3 linked regions of the Homo sapiens genome follow. The protein of the gene in region 2 interacts with the protein of the main gene of each other region in a pairwise test. Each region holds a gene or a part of one and is shown on either strand. Other genes may lie near its edges. The genes, in order: SOX8, NOD1 and GLE1.

What was found.
Region 1: the proteins of NOD1 (region 2) and SOX8 interact in a two-hybrid assay, tested with the Homo sapiens proteins (one large-scale study listed by BioGRID and IntAct).
Region 3: the proteins of NOD1 (region 2) and GLE1 interact in binary tests that used the Homo sapiens proteins (3 or more experiments, as listed by UniProt).

Annotation. Positions count from the first base shown.
Region 1 is NC_000016.10:980,197-984,586, forward strand, and holds the start of SOX8 (transcription factor SOX-8), read left to right. Parts: upstream 1-1,573; 5' UTR 1,574-1,726; coding exon 1,727-2,148; intron 2,149-3,531; coding exon 3,532-3,764; intron 3,765-4,390. UniProt on the Homo sapiens protein: Transcription factor that may play a role in central nervous system, limb and facial development. May be involved in male sex determination. Binds the consensus motif 5'-[AT][AT]CAA[AT]G-3'.
Region 2 is NC_000007.14:30,451,144-30,454,785, reverse strand, and holds part of NOD1 (nucleotide-binding oligomerization domain-containing protein 1), read left to right. Parts: intron 1-1,745; coding exon 1,746-3,570; intron 3,571-3,642. UniProt on the Homo sapiens protein: Pattern recognition receptor (PRR) that detects bacterial peptidoglycan fragments and other danger signals and thus participates in both innate and adaptive immune responses.
Region 3 is NC_000009.12:128,539,176-128,542,817, forward strand, and holds the end of GLE1 (mRNA export factor GLE1), read left to right. Parts: intron 1-440; coding exon 441-523; coding exon of another isoform or gene 524-539; exon of another isoform or gene 540-702; intron 703-1,099; coding exon 1,100-1,163; intron 1,164-1,926; coding exon 1,927-1,995; 3' UTR 1,996-3,113; downstream 3,114-3,642. UniProt on the Homo sapiens protein: Required for the export of mRNAs containing poly(A) tails from the nucleus into the cytoplasm. May be involved in the terminal step of the mRNA transport through the nuclear pore complex (NPC).

The sequences.
Region 1 (4,390 bases), on a different chromosome or scaffold from region 2:
CTTCCTCCAAAGGCCCTGGCCCCCTCAGCTCCGGGCCTGGCTCCGGTTGTTCCCAATGCAAAGCAGCAAGGGCCCCGGGGTCTGCGGACGGGGGCGGGCGGCCGCTGGGGGCACCAGCTCTCGGCCGGGCCAGAACAGGGGGTAGGAGGCGCGTCCTGTGCGGTCGGTGGCGGCCCCAGGTGGGTGCGGTGCGCTGGCAGGAAGCGGCAGCACGACCCCCGACTTTGCATCTGGACTTTTCTAGTAACGGACCAGCTCCTTCTGCCGACCGGGCCGGGGAGACCGCGTGGCTCAGTGGCTGCAGCGGCCACCGGCCCGGGCGTGGGGGCTTTGAGGGCACCGGCGCGGTAGGTCACCCGGGTTTCGCGGGCCGCAAGCTCGGAGACGCGCGTGTCCCGCGTTGGCTGCCTGACCCGGAATGGCGCAGCCCCTTCGCCTCCAGCGCGCTGGTTGAAAGGATCCGAGCCACCCTCGGGGACGGCCGGGCCGAGGCCACCTCGCGGGGCGGCCTTGGGCGGGGACCCGGACCCGCGGTTGGACGTTCGCCTCGGGGGGGGCAATGTCCCCTCTCCGACCCCGCGGTCCCCACCAGGGCGGCACACCCCGCCCTCTCCCCGCCTCCGCAGGCGCCCAGGGCTCACAGGCTCGGAGCGGCCTCCGCCTCTGCCGGACCACCCAGGGCCGCCCCGCCGGAGGGGCCTCCCCGCCCCCGAGCCCTAGGTCACGCCCGGAAGGCCCGGGGCCCCCGCGTCCGGCCACGCCATCCGCCCGGCGGCCCCAGGGACTCAGCGCCGGGGTCAGCGCAGGCCCCGCCCAGCGCTCCCGCCCCCTCCAGCTGGCCGGCCCCCGGGACCGCGCCCCCGCCCGCGCTCTCCACGCTCGCACTCGTATGGGCAGGGCGGCCCGGGGTCCCCCAGCTCCGAGCCGCGGCCCCTTGAAGCGCGTTACCTGGACGTGCGCTGTCCGCAGACTCTGGACGAGCTGGGCCTGGGCGCTGCGCGGCGGAACCGACCCTGTCCTGGACCGCAGGCAGCAGCTGACCCCGCGCCACCGGCCTGCGGGCGAGACCTCAGGCGCGAGACGGGCTGTGTGTGTGTGTGTGTGTGTGAGAGAGAGAGAGAGAGAGAGAGAGAGAGAGAGAGAGAGAGAGAGTGTGTGTGTGTGTGTGTGTGTGTGTGTGTGTGTGTGTGTGTGTCGGGGGAGGGGCCCGAGGACCCGCTTCCTAGCTGAGCGTCAGGACGGGGGGCGGACTCTCAGGAGCCGCGCGGCGCCCGCAGAGGAGAGGAAGCGCCGGAGACCCCCCTGCTCCCACCCGGCCTCCCTGCCCCGCTTCCTTTCCCGGGGCTCCAGAGAGGGGAGCTCCAGGCGTGGGGCGCCTGGCCCACGTGGTGCGGCGCCGGGCGGGGCAGGCGGGGGCGCGGCGAGAGCCGCGGAGCTTTCTTTATGGGTGGGGGGGCGGGGGCGGCCGGGCTCCGCCTCCGGGGGATCGGGGCGCGCTCCGCCAATGGGTAGCCGGGCGCGGGGCGGGGCCGCGGGGCCGCCGCTTAAAGAAACTTGTTGCGGGTCCCGCAGCGGGACCCGAGCCTCGGCGGCGGCGGCGGCGGCGGCAGGGGCGAGGGTCGGGGCCACCGCGCGGCGACCTCGGGTCCCGGAGCGACCGCAGGGCAGCCCCGGGCGCCGGCCCCGGTGCGCGTCTCCTGTGCGCGCCCCTCCGCGCGCGGCCCCGATGCTGGACATGAGCGAGGCCCGCTCCCAGCCGCCCTGCAGCCCGTCCGGCACCGCCAGCTCCATGTCGCACGTGGAGGACTCGGACTCGGACGCGCCGCCGTCTCCCGCCGGCTCCGAGGGCCTGGGCCGCGCGGGGGTCGCGGTGGGGGGCGCCCGGGGCGACCCGGCGGAGGCGGCGGACGAGCGCTTCCCGGCCTGCATCCGCGACGCCGTGTCGCAGGTGCTCAAGGGCTACGACTGGAGTCTGGTGCCCATGCCGGTGCGCGGCGGCGGCGGCGGCGCGCTCAAAGCCAAGCCGCATGTGAAGCGGCCCATGAACGCATTCATGGTGTGGGCGCAGGCGGCGCGCCGCAAGCTGGCCGACCAGTACCCGCACCTGCACAACGCCGAGCTCAGCAAGACGCTGGGCAAGCTGTGGCGGTGAGTGCCGGCGCCCCGGGGGCGGGGTTCGGGACCTTGGCCGCCCCTGGTCTCGGACTGCGAGCGGGGGCCTGGAGGGCGCAGAGCTCGCGGAGGTGGTGGCCACACGCAGGCTCCGGGCTCTGCACCCCGGGCGGGTGTCAGGGCGGGTCCCAGTGGAAAAACATCCTCTGGCCAGCCGGGGTCCGGCGCCAGCTATGGGAGTCGGGATCCGCGGAGGGCAGCGCCTGGGGTGTGCACCCTCGTGGCGGGTGCGCTCTGGAGCCAGTTCTCCTGGCGGGGAACACCCTGCGGAGGGCCATGGCTGGCACCCCGACGTGCCCTCCAGCCGTTGCGAGTGGCCCCAGCCCCGGGAGGCACGCCCGGCACGACAGCAAGTTGCATGCGGCTCTCTGGAGGTGCTCCCTCCTTAGAAAGGGCTCAGCTCCTCTAGCTCCTGGACCACCCATGGGGAGGGAGTGCGGCAGGCGGATGGGTGGGCAGCAGGTTTGCCTGCGAGTACCCTCCCCGCAGTTTCTCCCTCTCCTGGACACCCTCGGTCCGAAGCAGGGAGGGCAGGAGTGGAGATGACGGGGTGCGCCGTGTGCACGCCTTGGCGTGGTGGGGCCGGTCAGTTTTCCAGAAATTAGGACTGCAGAGTGAAGAACTTGTTGCTCAGGACAGGCCGCCCCCACCGAGTGTCCTCTGGTTGGGTTTCAAATGGTTCTCTTGGTTTGGGGCTCTGGTTCCCGTATCCTGCTCCTCACCTGGAAGAAGGGAGCTTGGAGCTTGCGTATTTGCACCTCCTGCCTTCTGTCTGGATCTAGGGCGCAGCCACGGGGCGCTGTGGACGGCAGGCCCCTGCTCCCCCAAGTCCTGCCGCACAGGCGGTTGGAGGTGAGCCTCGGGAAGAGTCCCAAGGAGTGTGTCCTGTGGCTCAGTGAGGACGGGCGCCTGGGCCCTGCCAGGGCTTCTGGGTGTCTGGGAATGGAGGGACAGCAGCCCAGCTGCCCGCCGAAGGCCGGCACCGTTCCCGGGAAGCCTCGCTTTTGTCCACCGCCGGCTGGGTCCTGCCCGCCTCCCCCGCCTCCCTTAGAAAGCCCCAGAGGGAGGGAACAGCAGGCCCGGAATAGGGGGAAATAGAAGGAGGAAGATGGGAGGCGTGGGGCTTGTTCTTCTTTGGCTGTCGTAAGCATACCAACCTTCCCAAACAGGCGCCGGCCGGTTCTCCCAGAGGAGTGTACTGCCTGGTGCCACGGGAGGCTCCGGAGCGCACGGCAGGCGGGTTTCCCTGGTCAGAGCCTCCTGGCCCCGGCCTCTGCTGCCGGTTCCCCCTGTGGTGTGTGCCTGCGCCGAGGGCACAGTGGGCGCCCTGGCCATCCCTGCCTCTGCCCTGTGCTGCAGCTTGCTGAGCGAGAGCGAGAAGCGGCCCTTCGTGGAGGAGGCAGAGCGCCTTCGCGTGCAGCACAAGAAGGACCACCCCGACTACAAGTACCAGCCACGGCGCAGGAAGAGCGCCAAAGCCGGCCACAGCGACTCCGACTCGGGCGCGGAGCTGGGACCCCACCCTGGCGGCGGTGCCGTGTACAAGGCTGAAGCAGGGCTTGGAGATGGGCACCACCATGGCGACCACACAGGTGGGCTCCAGGCCCCCCGCATATCTGAGGGTCCCTGTATGGGAGGCAGCTGTGGGGTTTCTGGCTGAGAAGGGTGCATGATGGTGGAGGGGGGCAGGCGCCCTCGAGAGAACCGGGCCTTCCCCGGGTTCCCTGAAAAAGCTCCCAAGGCCCCGGCCGCCCCTGTTTTTGGTGCACGAGGGACCTGCTTAGCCACCTTGAGTGCTGAGGGGCTGACAGCTTTGCTTGGCAGGGACCCCGAGAGGTGGTGTTTTCAGCAAGACTCAGTCCAATGCGGGCTCCTCTTCCCACACCGAGCTGCTGCCCACACGGCACTCAGCAGCCCCAGCTTCAGGGCCAGACTGACAGGGTGGAGTCCTGCCGGGGCCTCGGTCAGGCTGGCTGACGCCCGCCAGCCTCAGAGTGCTTGGCTGGCCCGGGGAGGAACAGGGTCTGTGTGGTCCCCCAGCGCCCTGTAAACCCCAGCTCTGGCCAGGCTGGGCCTGTCGGCTTCTTCCCCCCACCTTGGTCTCTGGGAGGGGCCTCGGGTCTTCTCATAGCACAGCGCTTCATGGAATTTTCTCGGCCGAGGAGTGAGGTCTAGGTCTGACTTTGCTGGAATTTCTGGGAAATGTAAAGAAACAAAA
Region 2 (3,642 bases):
TAGCACACACCTGTAGTTCCAGCTACTCAGGAGGCTGAGGCAAGAGGACTGCTTGAGCCCCAGAGTCTAAGGCTGCAGCGAGCTATGATTGTGCCCCTACACTCCAGCCTGGGTGACAGAGTGAGACCCTGTCTCTAAAAAAGGAAAGAAAAAAATTAAAAAGCCTTGCCAGGTTTGATTCTAGGCAAAGTATTCTGTCACCGTTGAGTGCCAGTCCTTATTTCCAAACTAATGGAAGACCCCATCAGTTAACTGATTAGTTCAATAAGTATTTTTTGCTGTATCCACCACATGCCAAGACCCTACACTGTGCTGGATGTCAGGGAGACAGTGGTGAGCAGACACAGACAGGGTTCCTGCCCTCAGGGAGCTTCAAGTCAGCTGGAAGAGACCACCAGTCAGCAATCTCAAAAATGTGTCAGGACAGCGGCAGTCCAAGGCATGTGAGAACATATCATTAGGGCCAGGATCTGCTCTGGGGCAGGAGTCTTCTTTCCCTGCTTTTGAACTCTCCACTTTGAGACAGCTGTTGGTAACATACCAGCACCAAGGACCTAAGTCCTGCCTTTTAAAGAATCCAATATGTTGTTGGAAACAGAAGCACAAGACAGGTGTGTGCTTAGGGGAAACAAGGCCAGCCGGCAGAGTGTCAGTGCTAGGCTCCAGCTTCCACAGCCCCTGCAGGTGCCTGCCAGCCACTGCTAGCTTCTGACTCTGTCTGCTCCTTCCTGTCTCCCCTTGTTTCCTTCCCCCATGAAAAAAAAAGAAAGTATTCCCATGAGGAATCATTCTTTCGAAAGACTTCTCTGTTGGTTCCGTTAGCCAGCTACTTTACTAGCTTTTACAGTGTAATTCACTCTACAAGCAGTCTCACACAAAAGACTACATATTGTATGATTCTGTTTATATGAAATGTCCAGAAAAGGTAAATCTATAGACAAAGCAAATCAGTAGTTGCCTACGGCCCAGGGATTGGCTACAAATAGGCTCCAGAAAACTCTGGGAAGATGGTAGAGATGTTCTAGACCTGGACTGTGGTGAGGTTTGCACAACTTTGTAAACTTACTAAAAATTACTGACAAATATATAACACTCCCTAACACTTTGGGAGGCCGAGGTGGGCAGATCGCTTGAACCCAGGAATTTGAGACCAGCCTGGGCAACATGGCGAGACCCCGTCTCTACAAAAAAACACAAAAATTAGTTGGGCTTGGTGGCATATGCCTGTGTCCCAGCTACTTGGGAGGCTGAGGTGGGAGGATTGCTTGAGCCTGGGAGTTTGAGACTGCATGATTGGGTCACTGCACCCTAGCCTGAGTGACAGAGCAGGACCCTATCTCTAACAACAAAAAAGCAGTGTTGGTGGAGGAGGGCCAGCGTGGCCATCTGGCCTGGCCCTCGAGTGCGAGGGGCTTCAGTGTTTAGCTGCAGTTCAGTGATGACACTGTGCGGAGGAATAAGGGTGGCCTGTCTCAGACACTGATCCCAGCTGAAGTTTGTCACCTTCTTTCTGGCAAATCTGAGGTCAAGCAGAGAGATCAAAGCCTGGGGCCCTCAGGGTCAGGAATGCTGGCTCTGTGACGCTCCCCAGGTCCTGCATCTGAGGAGTGGCTGCGCTGGCCTCAGGGCCCAGGTTGTGAATTTTGTTTATGCACTCGCCTCTCCTCTTTGAGACCTCCCTGTTTGATGCTGTTTCTGCCTCTCTCCTCACCCTGCTGCTGTGCCCTGCCACCCCCTCCCTCCAGTGAGCAGGTATACCCAGCAGCTGCGACACCATCTGGGCCGTGACTCCAAGTTCGTGCTGTGCTATGCCCAGAAGGAGGAGCTGCTGCTGGAGGAGATCTACATGGACACCATCATGGAGCTGGTTGGCTTCAGCAATGAGAGCCTGGGCAGCCTGAACAGCCTGGCCTGCCTCCTGGACCACACCACCGGCATCCTCAATGAGCAGGGTGAGACCATCTTCATCCTGGGTGATGCTGGGGTGGGCAAGTCCATGCTGCTACAGCGGCTGCAGAGCCTCTGGGCCACGGGCCGGCTAGACGCAGGGGTCAAATTCTTCTTCCACTTTCGCTGCCGCATGTTCAGCTGCTTCAAGGAAAGTGACAGGCTGTGTCTGCAGGACCTGCTCTTCAAGCACTACTGCTACCCAGAGCGGGACCCCGAGGAGGTGTTTGCCTTCCTGCTGCGCTTCCCCCACGTGGCCCTCTTCACCTTCGATGGCCTGGACGAGCTGCACTCGGACTTGGACCTGAGCCGCGTGCCTGACAGCTCCTGCCCCTGGGAGCCTGCCCACCCCCTGGTCTTGCTGGCCAACCTGCTCAGTGGGAAGCTGCTCAAGGGGGCTAGCAAGCTGCTCACAGCCCGCACAGGCATCGAGGTCCCGCGCCAGTTCCTGCGGAAGAAGGTGCTTCTCCGGGGCTTCTCCCCCAGCCACCTGCGCGCCTATGCCAGGAGGATGTTCCCCGAGCGGGCCCTGCAGGACCGCCTGCTGAGCCAGCTGGAGGCCAACCCCAACCTCTGCAGCCTGTGCTCTGTGCCCCTCTTCTGCTGGATCATCTTCCGGTGCTTCCAGCACTTCCGTGCTGCCTTTGAAGGCTCACCACAGCTGCCCGACTGCACGATGACCCTGACAGATGTCTTCCTCCTGGTCACTGAGGTCCATCTGAACAGGATGCAGCCCAGCAGCCTGGTGCAGCGGAACACACGCAGCCCAGTGGAGACCCTCCACGCCGGCCGGGACACTCTGTGCTCGCTGGGGCAGGTGGCCCACCGGGGCATGGAGAAGAGCCTCTTTGTCTTCACCCAGGAGGAGGTGCAGGCCTCCGGGCTGCAGGAGAGAGACATGCAGCTGGGCTTCCTGCGGGCTTTGCCGGAGCTGGGCCCCGGGGGTGACCAGCAGTCCTATGAGTTTTTCCACCTCACCCTCCAGGCCTTCTTTACAGCCTTCTTCCTCGTGCTGGACGACAGGGTGGGCACTCAGGAGCTGCTCAGGTTCTTCCAGGAGTGGATGCCCCCTGCGGGGGCAGCGACCACGTCCTGCTATCCTCCCTTCCTCCCGTTCCAGTGCCTGCAGGGCAGTGGTCCGGCGCGGGAAGACCTCTTCAAGAACAAGGATCACTTCCAGTTCACCAACCTCTTCCTGTGCGGGCTGTTGTCCAAAGCCAAACAGAAACTCCTGCGGCATCTGGTGCCCGCGGCAGCCCTGAGGAGAAAGCGCAAGGCCCTGTGGGCACACCTGTTTTCCAGCCTGCGGGGCTACCTGAAGAGCCTGCCCCGCGTTCAGGTCGAAAGCTTCAACCAGGTGCAGGCCATGCCCACGTTCATCTGGATGCTGCGCTGCATCTACGAGACACAGAGCCAGAAGGTGGGGCAGCTGGCGGCCAGGGGCATCTGCGCCAACTACCTCAAGCTGACCTACTGCAACGCCTGCTCGGCCGACTGCAGCGCCCTCTCCTTCGTCCTGCATCACTTCCCCAAGCGGCTGGCCCTAGACCTAGACAACAACAATCTCAACGACTACGGCGTGCGGGAGCTGCAGCCCTGCTTCAGCCGCCTCACTGTTCTCAGGTGAGGCTGCCAGGCAAGGGGAGCAACAGGTGGGCCGGGCGGGCCAGGCTCGGAGGGCATCGGGAATGGCAT
Region 3 (3,642 bases), on a different chromosome or scaffold from region 2:
GTGAGCTGTGATCATGCCAGTGTCCTCTAGCCTGGGCGACAGAGTGAGACCCTATTTCAAAAAAAAATAAAAAGCTCCTGAAGTCACCATACATGAACAATGATCCTGTATCATTTGAGAACACAAGTGGTATTCTGTATACTCTCCTTACTAAGTTTGGGAGGTATACCATACCTTTAGGAAGGCGTCCATTCATTAGAGGAAAAGAAGAGTAGTTCATTAAGACCTGATTGGTTAAATGGAGATATTGCCATATAAAGAGAAATGCTTTAGAAGAAAGTTGGGTGTTTCCATTTATTCCCTTGTTAGCAAGTTCAGTGGCATTGTGGTTGAAATTTTTGATAGGTGTGAAAGATGAAGGGCTGATTGTGCTTTATGAATCTGTCCTGTGAGTGTGAATTTTCATTTTCTGCTCTGACAGTGCCTGTCTTTCCCTCTAGGTGTGTGGGAATGCCCTCATGAAGCAATACCAGGTTCAGTTCTGGAAGATGCTAATTCTCATCAAAGAGGACTACTTTCCCAGGTATCAGGCTTGTTGAGCAGACAGCAGGGGATTAAGTAACTCATAACCAGGCCTCAGATACCCAAGGGTGCTATTACCTGCTGGTTTTGATTCAAGTTAAAAACACCTGTACTAAGTATGACATCTTTCCTACTCCAGTCCCTCTCGTTGATATTTGAATAAATGCTTTTGAACCTTAATGAGAGTCTGTCTTAAATATCATTGCCCAAACAAAAACACAAATTAGGGGCTGAGCACAGTGGCTTATGCCTATAATTATGCCTATAATTGCAGCTCTTTGGGAGGCCACAGGAGGAGGATCACTTGAGCCCAGGTGTTCAAAACCAGCCTGGGCAATATAGCAAGACCCCATCTCTACAAAAAAAAAATTAGCCAGGCATGATGGCATGCATCTATAGTCCCAGCTACTAGGGAAGCTGAGACAGGAGGATCGCTTGAGCCCAAGAGTTCAAGGCCTCGGTGAGCTATGATCGCACCACCGCGCTGCACTCCAGCCTAGGTGACAGAGTGAGACACCGTTTCCAAAAGATAGGTGTATATCATAGGTGTGATTCATGTGTCTTTCTCTCCCTGTAGAATTGAAGCTATCACAAGCTCAGGACAGATGGGCTCCTTCATACGCCTCAAGCAGTTCTTGGAGGTAAGATGCCCTTAGACCAACATGCCCCACACTGTTGTTGGGCTGGAATGCACCTATGTCTGACAAGTCTTGGACCTTCCGATGCTCTGATTGCACTCTCTTCCTTAGTTCTTCCAAACCCTTCTTTTTGTTCCTAATTCCCTCTTAACCTTTGGAGTAAGGGCTGCCATTTCCTCTTCTTTATATGTATCATTCTCTATACTGCCTGTGAGAAAGCTATGCTGAGATGAGTAAAATATATTTAGTGTATCTCCTCTCATTAATATATATTTTTTTTGCATGTTGGCCAAGGTTATTTTCTTAGTCTCAGGTCTGGGGAATTGGTAAGTGTCATCACTTTTCTCCATGAGATCAAACTGCACTTTCAGTTGGACTCTTCCCCTACTTCCAAGTGCCAAGAGATTGTAAAAGGTTAATTTTGACAAAGAATTTAGAACACTATAGTGGGTTTGCCAAGATAGCCTGCTGACTTTTCAGCTTCTCAAAGCTCGATTGTGAAAATAGTGATTGTGAAAGATGAGGTTAGCCTGTAGGGAGACAAGAGTGGGACAGGAATAATAAGAGCATTTCATTTGTTGTCTGGAGCAGATCATGCAGAAGTGGACATCTTATACAGAACCATCAGTCTTACTGGCTTTTTCCTTTTTGTTCACTGTTCCATAGGGCTGAAATATGGTGTTCCTCAAAGCTTCTTTTAACCATTAAGTGTTGGGAACACTGTTATCAGAAACTCATTCTGTTTTCTTCATCTTTCCCTGACCAGAAATGTTTGCAACACAAGGACATTCCTGTCCCCAAGGGCTTTCTGACTTCCTCCTTCTGGCGCTCCTGATGTCACTCCATCACCCACCATCACCGCTGCTGCAAAGAGGCAATAATAAAGGAACTGAAGACAGCTGTATTTGGGAGAAGTCATGTCAGATTCAGAAATTTGCCATTATGTATTTTTATGTATTTATGCCTTGTGACTAGGAGAGGAGATTTTCATGGGTCACAAAATTCTTGGAGGTCCCTTAGTAGATTTGGTAGTTCCTTAAGAGATCCACGTGATAAAATAAATGGAGTTGGCCTTTCTTGTTTTTTGCAAAAGTGATAAAAGGTCTTTAGCACTTGGTCTCCTCCCTTGTCTCTAGTGTCTTTCAGAAAGTTGGCAATACCTTAACAAATGCACTCTGAGCTGGAGGGAGCCCACCATTTGCACCCACCTACCCACCCTCACCCCTGTTCAGATGAATTTCCAGAAAGAGCTAAGGCTCATAAGGTTCCCTTTTAAGTATTATTTAATAGTTGAGGCCAGATACTTACATGCAAGTCTGGGTTATGGTTGTTTTGCCTTTCTCAGCTTGTGAAGTCATTCTAAAGCTAGAGGAAGTATGTGATATACACATGGACTAAGGCTCAGGTGACACTATGGCTAGATTAACATCTGGGATTAGGACTGGAAACACATGTCATTTTGAACTAAGGGAAACTCTTTGTCATCCTAATTTGGAATTTGGTCCCTGGATGGCTAGGGATCCATGAACCAGGCAGGTACCTTTTTTGTTTTTGTTTTGTTTTGTTTCTTTTCTGTTTGAATTAAGATGGGCTAAGATGGGGCTTGCAACATTAAACATGAGCTGAGCATCCATAAGCATTGAATTGGGATTAAATAAAGATGTTGGGCAGGAACTGAACACTGCTAATATGATGATAAATATGCCTGACTAAAGCCACTACAGAAATCCAGAGATTGGCTGTTAAAATTTGTTTTGTGGAAAGACTAATTCTCTTTGATACTGCAGAGGCAGTGGCCATGGATCTGTTCCTCTGTGCTAAATGTCTTGTGGCAGGGTGTGTTTGTGGGGGAGTGTTCACTGGTACTCTTGAGTGGCCTGAAGTGACCCATTCTATGAATTGTTAATTAAGGTGCCAAAAAAAATTAATAATAAAGCTTGGTTTTTTGAAAAACCCATTGCTGATATATTGGTTCAATATGATCAATTTCCTCTGCCTTGAGCTATGTAAATCATGATAGTATACAAGTCCAGGTATAGAGCGGTATGCATTTATTCCTTTTGGTCTTCTTGACCTACACCTTGGGAATATTACTTCTTTTTCTGTCATTTCCTTTTTTGGAATTATGTACTAATAACTGACCCTATTTTATCTAGCAAGAGATGTGAAAGTGTATTAAAATCTTTGAAAGACACAATAGGCCGTGCTTAGTGGCTCATGCCTGCAGTCCCAACACTTTGGGAGGCTGAGGTGGGAGGATTGTTTAAGTCCAGGAGTTCAAGACCAGCCTGGGCAACATAGTGAGACCCCCATGTCTAAAACAAATTTTTTTGGCCAGGCGCGGTGGCTCACGTCTTACCAGCCTGGCCAACATGGCAAAACCCTGTCTCCACTAAAATTACAAAAATTAGCTGGGCATGGTGGTGTGTGCCTGTAATCCCAGCTACCCAAGAGGCGGCTGGGGCAGGAGAATTGCTGGAAC